2 separate regions of the Homo sapiens genome follow, and region 2 is linked to region 1. Evidence: fine-mapped expression QTL. Tissue or cell type: whole blood. Region 1 holds a variant in brackets; the other region holds the start of a gene. All regions are shown on one strand. Distances are from middle to middle.

Evidence for each region. PIP is the estimated chance that this variant, and not a neighbour inherited with it, causes the effect.
Region 2: GPM6A starts here. The variant in region 1 is fine-mapped to the expression of GPM6A in whole blood (INTERVAL, PIP above 0.99).

What each region holds. Positions count from the first base shown.
Region 1 is chr4:176,008,631-176,011,394 of GRCh38, reverse strand. No RefSeq gene overlaps it. Among named protein-coding and RNA genes, the nearest start is that of WDR17, 56 kb to the left of the region's middle. The variant A/T (reference allele first, on the strand shown) is at 1,330.
Region 2 is chr4:175,811,188-175,813,793 of GRCh38, reverse strand. It overlaps GPM6A (glycoprotein M6A), which reads left to right and starts at 1,530. Exons shown (of 7, transcript NM_201591.3): 1 at 1,530-1,603. The coding sequence starts at 1,567. GPM6A-DT (GPM6A divergent transcript) reads right to left here. Exons shown (of 8, transcript NR_125901.1): 8 at 1,605-1,934.

The DNA.
Region 1 (2,764 bases):
TGATCTCCCCATCTTTTTTATCATTGGTTACCCTGCTCAAGGATCCATGGTTTCCTCTTGGTCCTTACTCGTATATAAATTATGAAAATTTATGCTTCATATTTATGGTATACATCGACTGTTTTCATTTATTCCCTTCAGCAATTTTCATAGTTGCAGCTAACATTTTTATAACTGTTTAAAATTTTCAGCCTTTCTAATGCATTATCTTATTTAAATTGGACTTTGACATTTTTTTCTTTCTTTGCAATCCATATAATCACTGTGGTGTACTGTAGTATCCTTATTAATAATTCTTCCAGCACCTGTCTTCAAAGACTTGCCTCAATAGCAGGAACTGTCACTTCTGCTGAACTTTACAAACCTAATCTTTAGTCTTTCCCTGGATCTCTCTGCACTCCAAATTTCTCAGCCTCTGAAATATTAAGGTCTAATACAGCAATAGCTGAACAACAACTTCTGTCTATCCCCATCTTTCAAGCTTTATTTACGCCAAATCTGCTCTTAAACTTCCTTTATCTTTTCAGTACTGTGTCCCCTTCTTCTCTCACAGTCCATAGCTACTGTCCTGGGGTCTTCTTTCTTCCTGTTCTAATTTAGACCCAAGATGAATTAACTCATTTTGTAGTTTTTGCCATCAGCCTTACCTCCTTCTTCTTCCTACCGCTCTACCATTACACTCACAAATGCTCTCAGTTTTCTTTAAATTCAGCTTTCTGTTTTATCCTCTCCTATAGTCAAGTTATAGATTGGTGTCTCTATAAATTTAGATTCAGTCTCTGCTTGGACTTCAATGTTACTTGATGTTTCTTTATTATACCGTGGTCACCTCCCTCTCCTCTTCACTACAGCAGCTGTAACAAACTTCATTAATTTTCTTAAGTGGAGCTGCAGCCCCAATTTGTTCTCTCTCAGCACATCTCCTTCCTAGTACATACCTACGGAATACTGAGGTTATCAGGCCTCCATGAGGTCCTGAGGTTATCAGCCCTCTGCTCCAAAGCTCCATACTGAAATAAAAATCTTTCTTCTTTTTTCTTTACACTCACTTTCTCTACTTCTTTTTCTATCTCAGAGGATTAGGCAATTTTGCCTGTTCTCTCTGGCTTATTCCTCCTCCTGTGTTCCAGATAGTATCTCTTCATTCTACTCTAAGAAGTAGATCTCTAAGATTGAAACCTATATATGCATTAACATATGAAACATACAGTTCTTTTTCTTTCATAAATAAACTTTCTCTGACACTTATTGCCCACTCTGCCTTCCTTCACTGTGAACTGTAAATAGGTTGTCCACACTCTTTTTCTACCACCCGTTTCCTTATTCTTT[A/T]TCTCTCTGCTCTTCACTTTTCCATAATACTCTTGCTACTGTTTCACCAGTGACTTCATAACCACCAATCCGAAGGGAACTTGCCAGTCCTCGTCTTCTTCGCTCTTTCTGTTTTATCTAGTTGACACTTCTTTCTTGTTGAAACGTTCTCTACAGGACTTTCTCTGGATTCTTTTCCTAGCCTAAGATTATTTTTTGCACTCCTCTGCATGAACTCCTTTTGTCCACAGTTATTAAATGTTTGTGTGTTCCCATTCTCCATTGTCAGTGTTCCTTTCCTCTTATTGAACATTCTCCCTCAGTGAATTAAAAATCATTGGCAATGTAGAAATGATATTTGGCTGGAACATAAAATGCTCATTCAATGACCCATAGTCACTCATGCCTAGATTAAATCCCAGTGCTTTTCAAGGTCATGTGACATGAGAAATCTTTGGTAAATAAAACTGGCTTAAAAACTGTTAGTAAAATACAATTAGAATGTCTTCAGAATTGTAGGTATTACATATAATTCACACATTTTTGCCTGGATCTATTGGACAGACAAATTTATACTGTCTCTTCTACATGTTTTTAAGGCCAAAAAATGGTTTCTTCTGTGATATATTTGATACTTGCTTAATTTGTCTGCGAGCTTATTTCTTTGGTTTTGAGTCTTTAGATTCTAGGGTTTAGACACTTGGTCACAGTGAGGGCTAGGGCACAGCACTTGAACCCCATCCTACCGGACCCAGCTGTGCCTCATGGCCATGCAGGGAGGAGTTGGATTCATTAGACATTGTCTGGAAAGGTCTTTCCTCCTTGAAAGAAGTTGGATTCACCAGGAATTGTCTTGAAAGGTCCTGGGCACTGTGTCTGGTATATAACAATTAAAATTGCTAACTTCTAAGGTTTTTCCCTGAAAATTAGGGTTACTAAGAGTTAACATTGTAATTAGTATATAAAATTAAAACTACCAGATGTGAGAAACATTTCTGTATGAAAAATGTATAAGGAAAGTTCAATGTGTTTTGGGTGGGGAAGGTTATAACAAAGGTGTGAGAATGTGGTTTTGTTAAAGAAAAGGTAAATTAATTTTTGTCTAGTTCAGAGGCCATATAAATGTTATTTAAAATTGAAGGGAAAAAATAATAGATAAAACTAAATGGATATAGAAAGTTGGGGAAAGAAAAAGAATGAAAAAATTTTTGTTATAAAAGTTTTATACAAATCTTATGTGGTCAAAACTGATTGAGATTAAATGGAACTATTTATAGTATTTTATTAAATTAGCTCTAACATTAACAATGCTGATGCAAAGATATATTTTAGTTTTCTCTTTTGAATATGATTTTCGTGTAGTATTGGCAAGAGATAGTATAATGGAAGATTTTTGTTCACCTTTTGAATAAACTGCAAAAAATAAGAAGTAGCAGGGAGAGTTTGACTCATGCTG
Region 2 (2,606 bases), 200 kb after region 1:
TGGAATGCAGTAATTGTGTTTCCTCTAAATAGCTGCTTTTGTAATATTTAGAGGGTGATGTGCAGCATGCTACTGGCCTGCTTTAAAGAATGCATGTGAAATACAAGCTATAATGCAAGAAACGTATGCTATGGATAATGAGGATGTGAGCTATTTTTCATTAAAGGCAGAGAGTTACAGTTATGTCTGTGTGTGTGTCCTTGTGTGTGTGTGTGCCTCTCCGTGTGTGTGCTTGTGTGTGTCTTTCTGTCCCTCTGTGTGTGTTTCTGTCCCTGTGTGTGTGTGTGCTGGCTGATTTGGAGATGAAGACAGAGGCAAGGATCCTTTCTTTCTACTCTAGGAAAGGTTTATGCTCCTTGAAAGAGATACTGTTTATTTTCTTGCTATACCTTTTGTGAAGTATTGAGACTCTTGGACTGTGCCCTGTCACTCAGTAGGCTGAAGTACAAATGCTAATTATCGCCAGACTGCAGCATTGTGATTTGCATTCCAAATCAGCTTGCAGATTCCCATTATAAATTGCTATCCTCTTGTTTCTTATCTAAAATTTGTTCCTCCCTTACATCACTCTTCTCATTCCCTAACACTGACCTTTAAAGAAATTCCCTTTCAAGAGATTCTCATTGGAAACCAGCAGCTTTCGTGGGCTATAATCATAACAATAAATAACAAAGACATCAATAGGGTTTTTCCTTCCAGTGGTTTTCTCCCTTTTACTTAAGAGTCATATGGCACTAAGTAAAATAATTACTTAAAACATGTATCTCTCAGGCTTAGAGCTTTATACTCACTCCTTTGACAGCCACGCTTCTATTTCTTTTTAAATCTCAAAGGTGTGGGATTACAAGTCCTGTCTTAGTAATAAACTTTTGCAGATAAACCCTGAGATGGTATAACTGCATCCTTTCTTGGCACCTTAAATCAAATTAACTAAATACTTAGTGAGGAGAGAAAAGGAAAACACAGTTTTTTTGCAACGTATCTGACTGGGTGAGAAGCCACTGCTGCAGCATAAAGAACCGACGGGAATCTGGGCTTTCCCACTCTGGAATGAAGGGGGGAATTACGGGTTGGTGGTCGGCTTCATGTTAGGAGGACACCCCTCCATCTGTTCACAGCTCAGCCTGTTTCCAATTTAAAGCCCAGATTTCAATACAAACCTCAATTTCTTTTCCCCATTTTAAATGCAAAGCAAGACTTGTGAATCATAGTGTCTCTGCTCCTGGGATTCAGACCAAATTTCCCCCCAAAATTCTCAGGCTATTTGTTTGAATACCTGCTTACAGTGGTACACAATGGGCAGCTTTGAGAAGAAAAATTGATAATCTTCACGGAAGAGTAATTTGAATGAAATTACACTTGACAGCCTGTCTCCAAGCAAACAAGAGGAACGAGGGAGCCTGAGCTAAGCTCTGAGGACTTGCCCAAGCCACTGCTGTTGGAGCTTCCCAGGAAAAAAAAAAAAAAAAAAAAAAAAAAAAAAAAAAAAAAACCCCCAGTTTTTCCAACATCTAATTGAGCTTTTGATTAATTCCGTGTACCAGATTCTACTGAAGAAAGGTAGCCATGGAAGAGAATATGGAAGAGGGACAGACACAAAAAGGTACTGTGCTAAAAGCGTTTATTTGTAACTAAGTAATTATTTTGCAGTTTCCTTGTTTGCTTTAGACACTTGCCAGTAAGGCTAATGAATGTTTCTCTCTTGGAAGGCATTTTGTTCCTTCCTCTCCTTTAGTCTGTTCCTCACTTGCAGTAATGTCTGGCACGAATGTTGTCATTATTTGCAAATCTTTCAGATATAAGTACCGAAATGCAGAGTCGAGTATTAGTGAGAAGAGCATTGCGGTATTGTAGTGAACTATTCCTTAGACCAGTCTTTGTTAACCTTCATTTATTTCGTGATTTCACACTTGCCGAGCTGGGTCAAGGGATCCCTAGTGTGAGCCACAAATACAATATTTGGAGTTAGTTAAAAATTTGGTGATGGAACCATTATCCATATCTTTGCATGGACATCTGATAGAACAAAGACCAAGACCATTAATTATCTTTTGATTGGTGCACCTTTTTAAAACAATCTTTAAAAAATAAAAACTAAAAACGAGGATGCAATATAGGTTTAAGCAGATGGAGCAAAAGTTCATAAATTTTCAGGGTGTATGGAAGCGTTAAGATTTTCCTTTCTATATAGTTGACTGTAATCAACTTCTGAGTAATAATGTTAAAGGAAATTTTTTTATGTGTTTTTAAAGCTTGTCTAGGTATATCTGGCTGTATGAGTTAAAGTGAAATTTCCATTTTTGAAGGTTGAAATGGTCAAATATTGGTAATTTGGAATGATTCAATCAACTCGAGAATTGTTTTAACGTGTCAAATGGTAGCTTCAGAGGGAGCTAGCTTTCACCCCAGATAGGCAGCGTTTCTCTCGTCTGCTGTCGGGCTTATGTAATGTCAGAGAAAATGGTCTCATTTTCTTAGTACTGAAGCAGTAACACAGGTAATACTACATAAAGGTAATATTCAAGAGTAGTGTTGAAAAAGATTCAGCTGTCAAAGTTAATTTCAAATGTATATAAAGGCACTTATCGTAAAAAACTGTATTTTAT